Regions from separate parts of the Homo sapiens genome. Here region 1 is linked to region 2. Evidence: fine-mapped expression QTL. A gene starts in region 2. The other region holds a variant in brackets. All regions are shown on one strand. Distances are between the middles of the regions. Region 1 overlaps ANO2 (anoctamin 2). Region 2 holds the start of PIANP (PILR alpha associated neural protein).

Evidence for each region.
Region 1: its variant is fine-mapped to the expression of PIANP in ovary (GTEx, PIP above 0.99).

Annotation. Positions count from the first base shown.
Region 1 is chr12:5,791,925-5,800,253 of GRCh38, reverse strand. It overlaps ANO2 (anoctamin 2), which reads left to right. Exons shown (of 25, transcript NM_001364791.2): 10 at 683-747. Among named protein-coding and RNA genes, the nearest start is that of ANO2, 150 kb to the left of the region's middle. The variant C/T (reference allele first, on the strand shown) is at 3,547.
Region 2 is chr12:6,696,212-6,704,540 of GRCh38, reverse strand. It overlaps PIANP (PILR alpha associated neural protein), which reads left to right and starts at 3,726. Exons shown (of 5, transcript NM_001244014.2): 1 at 3,726-3,927; 2 at 6,437-6,496; 3 at 6,749-7,254; 4 at 8,017-8,098. The coding sequence starts at 6,480. RefSeq lists enhancers at 4,445-4,946, 7,650-7,759.

The sequences.
Region 1 (8,329 bases), 900 kb after region 2:
CTCTGCCCCAGCCACACTGGTTCCCTGTTCTTCCTAGGATGTGCCATATGCACTTGCCTTGGGGCATTTGCACAAGAAGACTGTCCTGCCTGGGACACCCTCCCCCCTTCCTTTGTGTCTCAGCTCAATGTCACCTCCTCAGAGAGGCCTTCCCTGGCCATCCTGTCTACAACAGCACCCTACTCCTCTCCCTTCCTTCACATTCTACTCCCTGACCTTGATTAATTTTTCTTCATTAAGATTTCAAAATCTTATCTGTTTATATGTTTATGTTTATCTCTCCACACCAGGGTGTAAGCAGACTGTGGCTTACTGCTGTATCCAGTGTGGGGACAGTGCCTGGCACATAAGGAGATGTCAATAAATACTTGTTAAATGAGTGAATCATGAACATTAGGGCTCATTTTGCTGGACTAGGCAAGACGTGGGAATAAAGAAGACGGGGTTCTGCTAATCAGGTGCAGGACTGCCTCAGAGTGTGATAAAGTTCATCTCTGTTGTTTGAGGAAGGAGAAGCCAGTTTCCATAGCCTCCCGATTCTGAACATCTCCCCCTGGATGTCTCATGAGAATTTCTTAGAAGCTGGACTTTGGGGATAAAAATCTGACTTGTTAGGATGGACAAAATCAGGTGAAGTTTCCCATCTCTACCTCTAACCTGTTTCCTTATTTTCTTTGTTTAGCTGCTATATCAAGAATGGGCGCGCTATGGAGTGTTCTATAAGTTCCAACCTATTGACCTCATCAGGTAAGAGGTGGTAGGGAACTTTTGGAAGTATCCTGGAGATGCAAGTCCTGAAAGATGTATCATAAACCTTTTGACTCTGACAGTCCTTTGCTCAAGTGGAGGGATCTTCTTTTCTAGCTTCTATGATCCACTCCTCTGTGTCTCATGGGTGGGGAAGCAGCTGGGGACATGGGAGGGACATGGAGGCTGCGTGGGGCAAAAGATACTGTAGATTGATAGACCATGACCTGCACCTTGAGGTCTTCAACATTGGTCTCTTTCCCTGCCTGTTCTCTGGGAGGGGTGCATGGAGCTGTCTCATTTCTTTTCCTTAGTCTTGTCCTAGAGAAGAACCTGGATGAAGCTGATTGTTGGGTTATGCCCAAGTGCCAGTGTTGATCCAGGAAAGGGTGGATTTAGCAAATCACATGAGGAATATGCTGGTTGGCCTGACAGAATGTGGACTTTTTATGGCTTTTCCAAATTAGAAGGGAGGAGAGACTAGGCCCTGGGTTTCCTCCCTTCTGTGTTGTCACAGAATGATGTCCTGTTTTCTGGCACCTTGGACATTTCCCCAGCTTCTGTTGAACATTAGTGAAAAGTCCTTGGAAATAACTTACTGGAATGTCATAGGTCTGACTAGTTTAAAATGGCTTCAGGGCTCTAGAAACTCAATCTTCTGGCTGGAATGTTGGGCGGCAGCACTGTGTGACAGCACTGGGCTGAGAGTCTGGAGACGTGAGTTCTGGTCTGGGCCTGGCCACTAAGTGCTACCATTTCTTTGGGCAAGCCCCAATTCCTCTTTGATCTTCAGGGTCCTGGTTGTCCTAACTTGGGAGGCTGAGCTGAGGGATCTGTGAGTTCACATGGTAGAATGTGCTCATTTGGAAAAGATGGGCCGCTGGAGCCTGCAGGAGGAGGCTGCTCCATGGTGGACATGGTGGACTCACTGCCCTGAAGTCACCTAATGAGCTAATTCATCAGCCTGAGAATAGAGCGTGTTCCTGGCTGGTTGCCCTGGGCTGGGATTGTGAGAGGGGCAGCGGCCAGGAGAATCGAGTCTAGAGGGAGGAATTCCAGCTTCTGCTTGGAAAGAGAAAGCCGCGTGGAGGCCAGAGTTTGGGCAGCTCACCTCCTACACAGAGATGCAGCGGCCCTCCCAGCGGACAGAGCTTGGTTGGATGTCTCTTGGAAGCAGGTGTTTGTTCCAGCTGAGGACCGTGAACCAAGGTCTTGGGTGGGGGAGCAGGGACATGCGGGGCCTGTGACCAGGTGCCTTCACCCTGTCTCCCGTCCCCTGGCTGCCTTTCATGTGGCATGGGCCACCTAGACTGTTCTCTGGGCCACCCCAAGGCTGATCATTCCATTCTTGGTGGGCTTTGATCTTTCTCTCTGGATCTCAAGTGGCCACCCACTCTGTCGCCTGTTTTCTCCAACTACTCATTTGTTTTTGTTTTTTTTAAGTACGATTAAAAAATAAAAATTCTCCCTACCAGAGAGCCCTATCTTTTCCCGCAGAGACTTCAGGTGACTCGCTGCCAGCTAAGTGGCAAATGGCTCCAATATGCACTCGGTTTTGGCCACCAAAGCAGCCTCACCTGCAGGGGAAGTATTGCCTTTGGAGCGGAGCCCTGCTCTGGGGCCTGGCGGTTCCTGAGGATGGAGAGCTCAAATCTGTCTAGACAGGGCACGGTGTACTGGAGCAGGGCCGGAGGCTGTCTACAGCTCCTCACAGATCAGATGGCCTGGAACACTCCCACGGTCCCTGGGCAAAGCCAAGTCTTGGTCAGGAGGGAGAGGAGGAAGGAGCCTCAGGAGAATGGGACGCTGGGCAGCATGTGTGTGGGGAGCCAAGGCAGATGGTGATGGTGGTTGTCATCCCAGTGGCATAAGGAACTCTCTGACCTCAAGAAACTGCTGGAAAGAGAAGTGATGGAAGGGCTGGTGGTGGGGAGCACTAGGGTCAGAAGTGGGCGAGTACCTGGAGAACTTGTAGAGAGAAATGTGGGCTGGAGCATGCAGGGAGCAGCTACTTAGACTCAGTGAGCACACCAAACTCCTCATTTTACACTCTTTTACCAAATGGTCCCAACTTGCTTTCCCTGATTCTGTCCAAGTCCTCTCCTTCCTCTTCTTCATCATGACACAACCCGAGACCTCAGTAATCCCTGACTGGCGTCACTTTCACTTCCCACTCCCCAATCTAACTGTGAGTCTTGGGGATTCTTCTTCAGCACCATTTCTCTCTTTTGCCACTTCCTCTCCATCATTCCTCCCACCTCCTGTCGGGGCCCACCTGCCTGCAGAGTCCAGCCTGTGGTTCCCTTCCTGAGCCATCACAGGCCCCACACCATGACAGTTTTGCTCCATGACTACTTACTACCATGCATGGCACCCTCCGTGTGCCTCGCGGAGAAGTTGCCCTCATATGGTCTGTGCTGGAAGAGTGACGGAGCAGGGGAATCTGGCACAGGCGGAACGTGATAATTCATGCACAGGCCTGGCCAAGGTCTTTCCCACCCGTTTCTTTGGGTTTTCAGCTCCTCATTTTTAGCGCCAAGCTTCTGTTCCTCCTCTGGAGCCCTAGTGCTCCTCCTCTGTGCCAATTGTTTGGAAGATTCTAAAACCTCTGTGTGAGCCATTGAGAGCTCATGGGGCAGGAGACCTGTTTGTATGTGGAAGGCCCCGGAACTAGCTCTCCTTCCCCTTCCGCAGGCCTTCAGGCCTCATTTTGAGTCTTGGGGTTTGAGACACCGTTCCTGGATGTTGAAAGTCCACAGAGGGGAGGCAAGACACCCTTCCCTGCACCCCTGGCCCCTG[C/T]CTCCACCCGGCTGCAGTGTCGTTCGTGCCCAGCAGGCTGCACTGTGAGACTGCTGATGGCCTCCAGCCCCGCACGGCTCTCCTCCCGATCCTGCCTCTGCTCTGGAGACCTGGGGCCTGCAGGCCTGAGTGTGTGTGTGAGCCTGTATGAGAGTGTTTGTGTGTGTTAGTGTGTGTGAGTGTGAGAATGTGTTCGTGTGAGAGTGTGTCTCTGTGTGTTGTGAGTTTGTGTGTGTGTATGTGCAAGAGTGGGTGTGTGTGTGAGTGCATGTGTGTGAGTGTAAGAGTATGAGAGTGTGTGTGTGTGCCAGAGAATATGTGTGTTTGGGAGAGTGTATATGTGAGGGTGTGTGTGAGAGTGTGAGCGTGCATGAGTGTGTGAGTGTGAGCAGGGAGTGTATGTGTATGAGCGTGTGAATGAGTGTGTGTGCATGCGTGTGTCGGTGTGAGTGTATGTGTGTGAGTGGGTATGAGTGTGTTCATGTGTGTCAGTGTGAGAGTGTGAGTGTATGTGAGAGAGTGTGTGCATGAGTGTGTATGAATGAGCGATTGTGTGACTGTGTGTGTGTGAGTGTGTGTGTGAGAGCTCTCTGGAAAGTTCCCTAGAGAGGTATCCAGCAGGAACCTCGATGAGTGAGTGCACCCCAATCCAGAAGACCTCCTGGGCACTTCCAGCCAGCAGCACTTGTGCCTTGTCAGAAACATGGCTTGTGGCTGATAATATGAGGAATGACTCCTAAGCTAGAGTGAAATGACTCTTCTAGTCCTTTAGGGAGCTGGAAGAGGGTCCTCACAGCTGGAGAAGGACATTTCTGCCTGCACTTCTCTGGTTCAATGCTCTAAAACCCAGGAGGAAAACAGCCCTTATTTTCTGGGAAAACTTGGGGACTGGAGGCCTTTTCGATTTGTACAGGTCTGACCCAATACTAGTCAGGGCCGTAATCTGTCTTTTTACTAAAGTTAATATCTGCTCCCAGGCTGATTTTCTTAGCTTGGACGTTTTGATATGAATGAGACAAAACAATAGGTCTTAAGCATCTTCTGAGTTTGATTTCTCTTCTGACTATACTCTGCTGAAACTAATGTACAAAAAGTTTATTCTAAAGCAGCTGCCACTGCCTGCCTGTGACAGCATGGGAAAGAGAGGGTTCTAGAACTGTACTCAGCTCAGAGGGATTGCAGCCTGTTGACTTGTGGGAGTTCACCAAGGGGATAATGGATGGGGAGCTTCACTGTACCAAACCAGGCCTGCAGTCTGAAGAGGGGTAATGGTCCCTACTCACTCCCACCTGTTCCTGGGGTGCTCACTTCATGAGTGAGGCTTCCTGCACTTAAAGTCAGGCCCTGGGCATGAAGCCCACCCATGTGGAAGCTCTGGAGTTCTCTTAGAAATGTGCCAGCTTAGAGCCTTGAGATATGGAACAGCTTCCACGAGGATCTGAGAGTGATCTCTATGGGGTTACCATTTCAAGAGCCCTTGGGTGGCACTGTGCCCCAACGTTGCTACACATCTCTACCAGCCCTCTCTAGCCTGACATGCCACGAATGGGATCTCCCTCCTACTGCAAGGCACAGGTCACCGTCCTTGCCAGGGTTCCCCAGCACTGCCACCAGAGACTGTGTGGTTTGATCCATCCCTCCTTGTCTCTGGGCTCTGCTTCCACCCTCCTGAACTGTGAGCCATCTGAGCACCCCCGGAGGGAGACCGAGGAAGCCATGTTCTTAGGAGGCTTCTCAGCAGGCCAGGCTGGGGAAGGACTGGCCAGGCCACAGCTGGGTTAGAGGAGGAACTGGAGAGAGAAAAACGTTGATCAATCTGTGATTACTTATTTCCTTAGCCCTGCTGCTTTCTCCTTGATTTTTCTTTGGGATTGAGAAAGGCAATTCAGCTCGACACAATACACATTCACTGATGCTTACAGTGAGCAAGTCTCTTTGCTTGGCAGTATGGGGAGGCACAACAACGATGAAGGGAGAGCTTATGGCCTTTAAGATCTAGGAGTTATGTAGGGAGACAAATGTGTGCAAGACCGGATATAGCGAGGGCTCTCAGGACTATAATAATGTTCAAACCTATCAGTATGGGATCACATTTGAAGAGTAATTGCTGCTAGAGGAATAAGACAAGACTTCCTGGAAGAGGTGGCCCTTGAATCAGAAATGTTGCTTTCTGAAGGACGACTGAGGTGAAAGAGTGTGTCTTTGTAACCAGCCTGGACTGCCCTGTATAAGGATTTATAGTTTAGCCTGATACTAATGACTGAAAATCACATTGACTCAAAGCCAGATCTTTCCTCACTGTTGACTGGGAGTGGTGAGATCAAGAACTTGGCTTGCAGACCTTGTCTGTAAGGATTCCCTGCCAACCTGGCCCAAGTCCCTTGCTCTGCCCCACGAATTAGCAGGCAATCCAGGGTTGGAAGGAAATGAGGCTGGATGCATGAAGGGAAGCTAAGGAGAGATGACACGTGGGATCAGCACCATGGCATTTGCACGGGTCTTATCATTTGATGGTTGGGTTTAGCTGGAAAACATTTTGCAGCCTGGAAGGAAATAATACCTCATAGGCCTGAAGTCTATTCTTCCTTTACCTCTGAGGGTGTGAGAGAAGGGTAGACAGAGAAAAGCAGCAACAGCTGGTTGAGGTGAGGCAGAAACAAGGATGATTATGTTCCATGCCATTACATTCTGGTCCATTTTATAGATCAGGATATAAGTCATGCTGTTAATCCCATCATGCTGTGGAAAGGCTCTGCCCCAGTCTCCTTTCTCTCATTTCCTCCATGGAGTGCCACTCTCCTCCAGTTGTACCCTTTCGGAGGGAAGGCTGTTGGTCTTGTGGTTGACCAATGGAAACAGGAGTTGGAGTACAATGCTACCAGCTCCAGTTCAAAATGCTACCAGCTCCAGTTCAAGGTAGCAGCTAATGACTGTGTTGGTCTTCTGAGGGTGGCCTCCTAGCCTCACAACAGCCTTCCAGAGATGGTGGCTCCTGTTTTAAACTTTTCATCCTCCTTCCTGTCTTATCAGCCACATGGTATGGATGGTGGATCCCAAGGCACCAAGAGGCTCCACAAGTTCCCCATGGCCACCTGGAATTCCAGGGCAGAGCTGGGGAAGGAAGGAGCTGTCTGGCATCAGCTCATTGCCTCCTTGATCAGCTTATGTCATGCCCCAGGGAGGAAAAGCTGATATTAGTCTGAAAAATATGACAAGCTATATGTTTGTGCTGTCTTGGCCCTGTTGTACAATAAGCTTTCAATTATCCAGAACCTCTAGGAACAAACCATAGCCTCACAGAGGCAAATGAAGCTTAGAGGCCAGACAGTTGGATAGCTGTCCCTGGAAGGAAGGAATGAAGAATTTTTCTTGCGGCATATTCATCTAGCAAATGCCCAGCCTCTGCTTGATTTTTCTTGGAATAGGGAGCACCTTATCTCTGGGACAGTTTGTTTCTGTCTTGGGCATATCTAGCCCATAGGAAGTCATGAAACTAGAAGGAAAACTGCTGATTTCCCTTATTTTGGTCTTAGTTCTGCTTCCTGGAGCTGCACAGAACAAGTATACCCTGTTGTATAGGTCAACCCTTTAAATATTTGAAAACAACAATTGTGTCAACAACAGTGCTCATATACCTAAGCTTTCTTTCCCACACCCCAAATACTCCTAGGACTTTCTGCGTTTCCATATCAACGTGTGTTCCCCACACAGCCTTATCATCGTGATTGTCCTTCTTGGGACTCACTGGTGGGGTAACTTGGAAGAGGAGGAGCCTTACATACACCTCACTGAAGCAGTTAAGCCACCACATATTTTGCATTATCCAGACACTGGTCCTGGGGATACGGAGATGATGTAAGCATGACCCCACTCTCAAGGAGCTTGAGTTCAAAGTGGAATCTCCATGCTTGCAGATGACCACTGGGTTTTCTGGGAAATAAAGGGACAGGCTGATGGAGAAAATTTATAGAAAGTAGCTGTGAGGCTGTAGGAAAACAACATATGGAAAAGATCACGAGGGAAAATTGGCCTTCGACTAGCCATTTGTGATGGGCTCAGAGGTATCAGCTATGCATCAGGCAGAGATCTTTGGGGATGATTGTAACTCTTTCTAGAAACATCAGTGTGATGTGATGCAGCACCACAGACCCCTCGAATTCTCAGAATACATTTTAAAACCAAGCTAGGATTGCATCACTCAGTGATTTACTGAATCATGGTAAAACCTCACATGTGGCTGACTTAGGTCATCACACCTAAAGAAAACATAACCAGGCTGGAACTGTTTCACAGAAGGAAAAGTAATGTGATCAAGGATTTGGAGAGGCGTCTTTATAAAGTCGGACTTAAACAAGGAAGAGTTCCCTATTCTCAGAACAAAATGGAGAAGGAGTGAGGCTGACAGTCAAAAGATGGGTAATGTGCCTGTGTATGTGTTCATCAGACCCTGACGCACCTGCCCGGGGACATTCCTTTAGACCAGGAGCAGTGAGTTAAGAGTGAAAAGAACTCAGTTTTACCTCCAGATTTGTTTCCAGTTGATGTAATATTTGGGCAAGTCATTCTCTCTTGAGCCTCAGTTTTCTCAGCTATGAAATAGGGGTGATAGCACCTGTGCTACCTGCCCACAGTATTACTGGGAGGATTCAGATGAAGAGCTGTGCAAATACTGTGATGATGGCTGTAGGTCTAAATAAATACAAATAAATGTATTTATACATTTATTTATATTACAATAATTATTTCTATTACAATATAATACAAATAAAATAAATGGCTGTAG
Region 2 (8,329 bases):
TGTCTCCCTACCAGACTGTAAGCTCCACCAAGACAGTGATGACTTCATTCTTGCTCTCCGCTGTATCCCCAGCCATGGCACGGTACCTGGCGTGTCACACCATTTAAATGACCATATTTGTATGACCAGCCTGGACAACGTGGCAAAATCTCATCTCTGCCAAAAAAAAAAAACAAAAACAAAAAACAAAAAAAAACAACCACCACCACAAATTAGCCTGGCATGGTGGCACACACATGTAGTCCCAGATACTTGGGGGCTGAGGTGGGAGGATTGCTTGAGCCAGGAGGTCAAGGCTGCAGTGAGCCATGATTGTGCCACTACACTCCAGCCTGGGCAACAGAGTGAGACCCTGTTTCAAAAAAAAAAAAAATGTGGAAAGAATGAATGAATCAAGAATAATAGAAATAATTAATGACCCAAGGTCCTCAGTGTCAAAGGCACTTACACTGAACATGAATATTCACTTGATAAACTTGGTCCATGCCAGTGACATGAGTTCACCTGGAGCATATCCTCAGGATGCTCTGGGGCTTAAGGGGCCCAGGAGGTGGCAGGAGTTGCGCACCTGACTCACATGGCCCCTTGGCCGGGTTCACATCCAGTGTGCCTTGTCTTTCCCCCACCACTGGGAGACACTAGGAGGACGGCTCACTCGCTGCTGTTCTGACCTCAAATGAAGGGCTGTCAGGGACACGCAAGCAAGAGGGCAGCTGCTGCAGATGCTCGTCAGAACAGCAGGCTTCCTTCCTTTCACGAGGCAGGAGCGCCAGGCTGACAACGGGTCACAATGCAGCAAATGAAGGAGGAGGATCTGAAGGGGTGTGGACATGAGCAAGGGCTCAACCTGAAGCATTTGGCGTAGGGCAGAGATCAGTAGGGGGCAGGCAGCTAGAGAGGAATGGCTGGAGGACAGCAGAGGAGAGAATTAAAAGAGTTCAGAGTGGGCAGGGGTCCCAGAAGAAGTTCATTAAGTGGTACATGTTGAGCATCTACTACATTCCAAGGCACTGCAGTAGGAGTAGGGATACACGGTAAACAAGACAAATAAGATCTTGGCTCTCTAATGTATAGGGGGGCAGGAGAGAGCAGACAGTAAATAGTAAACACATATATGATCATTTCAGAAAGTGATGAGTCGGGCCAGGCGTGGCGGCTCACGCCTGTAATCCCAGCACTTTGGGAGGCCGAGGTGGGAGGATCACCTGAGGTCAGGAGTTCGAGACCAGCCTGGCCAACATGGTGAAACCCCGTCTCCACTAAAATTACAAAAATTAGCCAGGCATGGTGGTGTGCACCTGTAATCCCAGCTATTTGGGAGGCTGAGGCAGGAGAATCGCTTGAACCCAGGAGGCAGAGGTTGCGGTGAGCCAAGATTGCACCATCGCACTCCAGCCTGGGCTGCGAGAGCAAAACTCCATCTCAATAAATAAATAAACAAATAGAAAGTGATGAGTTGGAAAGACAATGAAACATAATGAGGAAACAGAGTGGGGGCCACTTTAGATTTTGAGCAGGGATGAAGGAGCCAACCAGGTGAAGATGGGGAGAGGGGTGGCAAAACATTCCAGGAAGAGGGAATCAAAAGTGGAGGGGCCGGGCGCAGTGGCTCACGCCTGTAATCTCAGAACTTCGTGAGGCCAAGGCTGGTGGATCATTTGAGGTCAGGAGTTCAAGACTAGCCTGGCCAACATGGTGAAACCCTGTCTCTACAAAAAATACAAAAATTAGCAGGGCACTAGTGGGCACTGCCAGAGGGGTGGGAGGGCTGGGAAGGCTGGAAGGGCCCCCCTGCATGCACACGCTAGCTACTTGGGAAGCTGAGGCAGGAGAATTGCTTGACCCTGGGAGGCGGAGGTTGCAGTAAACTGAGATCGTGCCATTGCACTCCAGCCTGGGCAACAGAGAGACACACTGTCTCGAGAAAAAAAAAAAGTGCAGGGATGCTAAGAGAATGACTTCTGATGTTACAGAACAGCAAGTAGTCTGATCCAGCAGGAGCACTGTGTATGAGGTGGGTACAGGCTGGTGGGCTTCTCCTTACAAGGAGTTCAGATTTATTCCAAGTGTAATGAAAAACCACTCGAATATTTTAAGCAGAGAAGAGCATGACATGCTTTTGATTTTTAAAATATTATCAATATAGGAAAAACTAGTTTGTAAAGACAAGGGCAGAAGCAGGGACCAGTGAGGAAGCTATTATGATAATCTGGATGAGACATGATGGCTTAGACCAAGACTATAGCAATAAAGATAGAAGGAGATGAATTCGGGATATATTTTGGACGCAGAGCCCACAGGACTTGTTGGTGAATTAGATACAGGGAGAGAATCAGTGAAAAAAAGGGGAAGGGAGGGATGTTTCCTAGATTTTTAGCCTGAACAACTAGTAGTTGTGAAGCCTCAGGATGGGGATCACTGGGAGAAAAATGGATTGGGGGTGGGGGAATTCAAGACATCTATTTTAGTCAAGTTAGCTTTGCATGGCTATTAGACATCCAAGTGGAGATGTCAAGTAGGCTGTCGGATAAATGAGTCTGGCGCTCTGGATATAAATTTAGGACTCACTGACATTTACATAGTATTTAAGCCCTGGGACCGGATGAGATCACTGGACAGAGAATGTGGAAAGAGAGAATGGCCAAGGACTAAGCCCTAGGAGGCTCCAACATTTAGAGGTCACCCGAGGAAGACTAAGAACAGTCAGTGAGGTTGGAGGGAAATGAGGAGAGTGTGGTGTCCTGGAAGTGCCCTGAGGAAAAACAGCGTAGTGTGGTAGAGAGGGATGGGATCCAGGTGGTGGGAGAAGGGGCAGGAGAGGCTACTTTTGATAGAGACATTAGGGAAGGCCTCCCAGAAGGCGTTGGATCTAAGTGAGACTGGAATGAAAACAGTAAGTCATTGTGAAAAGCCAGGGAAATGTATTACTGAGGGAACAGCAAGTGCAAAGGCCCTGAGGCAGGTTAAACCTGTCTCCAACCAGGAAATCCACCAGGTCCCATGTGGCTGAAGCATAGAAATCTTTAGGAAAGGCAATCAGAGAGCCACCTAAGAGCCAGGTTATATAGGGTCTTGTAAGTCACAGCACGGAGTCTAGGTATTCCAGTGCTGGAAAAGCCCAGGAATTTCGACGTGATCCACTTAATGCATGGTAGCAGGGCCAGAGTGAAATAGGGGATCAAGCTGTGGGGATAATCCAAAGATGGTGCAAGGTCCTTCCTCCCCAGTCCTTTCCTCCACCCCTTGCCCCCAGCCTTGACCTCAGGCACTTTCTACAGCGGGCAAAACCAAGTTGGGGGACAGGCAGTGGTGACTCACGCCTGTAATCCCAGCACTCCGGGAAGCTGAGCGGGAAGGATCGCTTGAGCCCAGGCGTTCGAGACCGGGCTGGGCAACACAGCGAGACCTCATCTCTACAAAACACAATACAAAAGAACAAAGTTGGGAATGCAGAGCATTGAGTGACTCAGAATCTCAGAAACTGACTGAGGCGACCATGGGTGTCCCTGGAGTTGGGGTGAAGGAGGTGGGGAGACTGCCATCAGAACCCAGGGAAGCGGACGGTCGCTGGACCCTGCCAGCCTCTTCAGCCCTCCACCTGGGACATAGCCTGGCTTGACTCCTGCAGCGCGGCAGCAGGAGGGTTAAACCGTGCGTGGCCTCCGGCGCGGGGGGGAGGCGGAGACGGAGACGGAGCGGTCCCAGCCGCCGCGCCGAGCCCAGCCGAGCCGAGCCGAGCCGAGCCGAGGCGAGCATCTCCCACCGCCGCCGCCCCGCGCCCCAGGCGCCCGCCCCCCACCCGCTCCAGCGCCCTGCCGCGGGCCAAACCTCCCCACCATGCCCCGCACCCCGCCCGCTCCTGCGACCCCCCAGCCCCGCTCAGTCCCGAGCGCCCGCAGTCGTCGCGCCGCCGCGCCAAGCATGCAGGTGAGTGAGAGGGACCCCCACGCCCCCACCCGCGGGGAGCCCGGCCCTGCCCTTCCCGGCTCCGCGCCCTGCGCCTCCTGCCCCTCCCGACGCGGTCCCTCGCCCGGGACAAGGCCTCCAGCCTCCCAGCGCCCCTTCCCCGAAGGGCTCTCCATCCCTCCGCGGTCCTGGCTCGCTCCCGCCCTCCCTGGCGCAGCCGTCCCCGTCCCCGCGGCTGCCTCCATCCCGCCTCGGCTCGGCGGGCGGCTCCGCGCAGTCTCCTGCTTCGGGTCCCCAGTCCGCTCTCGGCACTCCCTGCCTCGGGGTCCCTTCGCCGACCTCCTTTTCCTCGTCTCCCCCCACTCTCGCCGCTCTCCAGCCCTGTGCGGGGAGTGCGGGCCTGCGGGATGGGTGGGATGGGGGCCACGCTGGGGCTGGGGCCCGGCTCCCGCACCCCGAGGCTCCTGCCCCACCCCCAGCTCGTCTCCTGCGCACAACAGGTCGGTGAGAAGCTGGGAGAGGGGTGGGGGTGGCGCGCCAGCCCGGGGACTGCGGGCTTCCTGGAGGGGGCGGCTGAAGCTGTGCGGGGCCCAGGGACTGGGTTGGCGCTGGCTGGGGGTGGGGATGCACAGGCGGAGGGGCGATAGTCCTAGAGTCAGCTGGCCACAGATGCGCCCTGGGAGCCCTTCTCCGCTTCACTGGTTCGCTCTACACGCCTCGCTCCCTCCCTCTAGCTTTCTTCCTTTCCCCTCTCTCTCCCTTCTTCCCACCATGCCCCCATCCCTATGTCTTTCGGTATCTCCACATCCCTTTACATTTGGGGGAGCAATTCCGAACTCCTCCATCTTTGCTGCTCCCGCCTCTGCTTCCCAGCCCGTTCCTCGTGTCATTTTTCCTTAAGCATTTATGTTCTCTCCTTCCCCACTTCCTTTCTCCCCATCCTGGGCTTTCCCCCCTTTTCTCCCATCCCCTTACTCTCCACTCCTCTGGCTGTCCTGCCTGGACCGCTCTCTCCTTCTCCTCCTGCCCCTTCTTCCCCTGCACCTGTGACCCCTTCATCCTCTCCGTTTCCCCTCCCTGACCTTTTCTCTCATCCTTTCCTCCCTTCGGCATCCTCCACAGTTCGAGTCTTCTGTACCCACTCTCCTCCTCTCTTCCCAGTTCTCTCTTTTTCAGGACTGCCTGCTCTCTCTCACCCTGCACTCCAGGCCAGCTTCCTCTTCACATTTCTCCTCTCTCACTCTTAACCAGCCTTCCATCTCCCAGCCCTTCACCCCTTCCCATCTCTCCCACTGCCTGCTTCCCCACGCCCTTCCCGTGACTTTCCCATCTTGTTCCCTTGTTGTTCTCTGGGAAGATTCAATGGGCAGATTTATTTATTTTATTTTTTGAGTCGGAGTCTCGCTCTTGTTGCCCAGACTGGAGTGCAATGGTGTGATCTCAGCTCACTGCAACCTCCGCCTCCCAGGTTCAAGGGATTCTTCTGCCTCAGCCCTCTGAATAGCTGGGATTGCAGGCGCCCACCACTACCCCCGGCTAATTTTTGTATTTTTAGTAGACACGGGGTTTCACTATGTTGGCCAAGCTAGTCTCGAACTCCTGATCTCAGGTGATCCACCCGCCTTGGCTTCCCAAAGTGCTAGGATTACAGGCGTGAGCCACTGCGTCTGGCCCATTGGGCAGATTTAGACCCAGAATCCACAGGAAACGGGTATCCTATCTTCACTCCCTCTGGGGAGCCTGCCCCTCCTGGATCCACCACCCTCAGCTCTGAGAACACACCCTTTCTCTTTCAAAACCAACCATCCCGATTTTCCCAGGATTCTTTACCCAGGAGAGCCACATTTGAGGGGGTGGTTTCTTCCTGACTCCACCTCCCTTCAGAGGGCACCTATGCACTTGGATGATTAAACATTAAGAGCAAAAATTATATTCTGTAGTTTTTCTCCCACTCACCTCTCTCTTTCTGTCTCTTTCCTTCCATCCCTCCAGCTCTTCATTCCTTTCTCCTGAAGATGCAGACTCCTGGGGCTAATCATAAGACAAATGCCTGGCACTGCCAGAGGGGTGGGAGGGCTGGGAGGGCTGGAAGGGCCCCCCTGCACGTACACACACTCACTGGCTTGCTCAGATTGACTTCCCCATCCCTCCCCCTACCCTCAGACTCCCTCCCTAGCGGTAGGTGCTCAAGGAATCACAAGGTTCTTGGCTCTAAATTAAGATCCAAGAAAAGCCTGGAGCTGTGGGCAGAGGAAGTGAGAAGAAGGGAAATCAGAGAAGCCAGAGTAGACCCTGGGGTGGAGAGGTAACAGGGACCTGAGAAGTTGTAGATGGGGCTGGAGTCTGGTCAGGCAACCACGCTGGAGTTTTTCCCCCAAAAGGATGCTAACAACCAGTGAATCCTGGGTGCAGCCGCATAGCTGGCAGCTGGGTGGCCTGGGAGGGCAGATGCGGGTAGAATTGGTGGATGAATTAGCTGGGGAAGTACACAGGGCAGGGCTGGGGTGTGACGGCCCCCTTTTTCTCCCAGTAAAGGCTGAAAATCTGGGTCACAGCTGAGGAAGACCTCAGACATGGAGTCCAGGATGTGGTAAGTTTGGCCCAGCAGAGGGAGCCTGGAGACCACATTCCCTGGGGCCATGACTCCTTCCTTCCTAGACCCATCCAGAGCCTTCCCATCCTGAGGGCCATCCTCCTTTGGAAGATGGGAAATGAGGCGAGTCTTCCCAAGGCCCACCTGCTTTCACAGGGAAACCTGGAGGTTTCTGGTGTGAACCTGTCCCTCCCTCACATAGGCCCACAGTAGGCCTGTGTCTCAGCCACGCTCTCTCCCTTCTTGCAGGCCTGCGCTGCTGCTGTCCCACCTCCTCCCTCTCTGGCCACTGCTGTTGCTGCCCCTCCCACCGCCTGCTCAGGGCTCTTCATCCTCCCCTCGAACCCCACCAGCCCCAGCCCGCCCCCCGTGTGCCAGGGGAGGCCCCTCGGCCCCACGTCATGTGTGCGTGTGGGAGCGAGCACCTCCACCAAGCCGATCTCCTCGGGTCCCAAGATCACGTCGGCAAGTCCTGCCTGGCACTGCACCCCCAGCCACCCCATCAGGCTTTGAGGAGGGGCCGCCCTCATCCCAATACCCCTGGGCTATCGTGTGGGGTCCCACCGTGTCTCGAGAGGATGGAGGGGACCCCAACTCTGCCAATCCCGGATTTCTGGACTATGGTTTTGCAGCCCCTCATGGGCTCGCAACCCCACACCCCAACTCAGACTCCATGCGAGGTGATGGAGATGGGCTTATCCTTGGAGAGGCACCTGCCACCCTGCGGCCATTCCTGTTCGGGGGCCGTGGGGAAGGTGAGTGGGAAAGGCTGGGAGGGATATGACGGATGGGGAGGCTGGGTGAAGACACCAAGGGGCAGAAATAGAGGCCTTGTCTGTTAGCTCCTTCAACAAATGTGTCAGGCACTATACTGGCACAGGATGCAGAGATAAAGACACCCTCTCGGAGTTCAGGTCCACTGGAGCAGACAGACATGAAAGGACTTGGAGAGGAGTCATCGTAATAAATGCTTTAATAGAGGCATGTGCAGCATGATTTACAAAAAAAGAGAAGTGAGAGTCTCCTCCTGCTTGGGGATCAGGACACCTTCAGAGAACTGACATTTGAGCTGGCCCTTGAAAAGAGAGTGGGAGTATTCTGGGCAGAGAATGCCATGAATGAAGGGCACTACCCGGGAGATGTCTTGGCTCAGGGAGTGCTGATGGAGGAACAGGGCCTGTGGTTTGGGAGTTGGGCCATGGCAGAGACTAGGACATCTCCACCCCTTAGTTTCCAGGCATAGTGATAGGTTCTCGCTGATCATGGGGCCTCATCCTCATCACATATACACATAAGATTTGGTGAAATACATTTGGGAAAGTGGAGGAAAAGAGCTGAAAACTCAGGGGAATGCTGGTGATAATAAAGAGTGAGGCTCCAGAGGGGCAGACAGAGCCGGCAGTGTGGATCCACACAGCAATGCCACTCCAGCCGACAGAGCCCACAGCCCAGCCCCCAGCCCCTCTTGGCTCCTACCACCTCGGGGCTCCCTAAAACTTTCTTCCCACCCCAATCAGGTGTGGACCCCCAGCTCTATGTCACAATTACCATCTCCATCATCATTGTTCTCGTGGCCACTGGCATCATCTTCAAGTTCTGGTAAGCTGGGAGGAGGAAGGTGCTGGTGGATGGGGACGGAATGTTTGGCAGTCGAGGCTCTAACCACGAGGGGCAGTGGCAGCAATTTTGCTGGGGGGTGGGTGGGAAATGCTGGATGAAGGCAAGACCTTGGGAAAAGATAATTAAGGATTTGGCTGGGGGAAGACGGTGAGAAATCAGGGCAGATTCTGTCTCCCAGGGAAATACAAGGATAAGGGAGGGCAGGGGAAT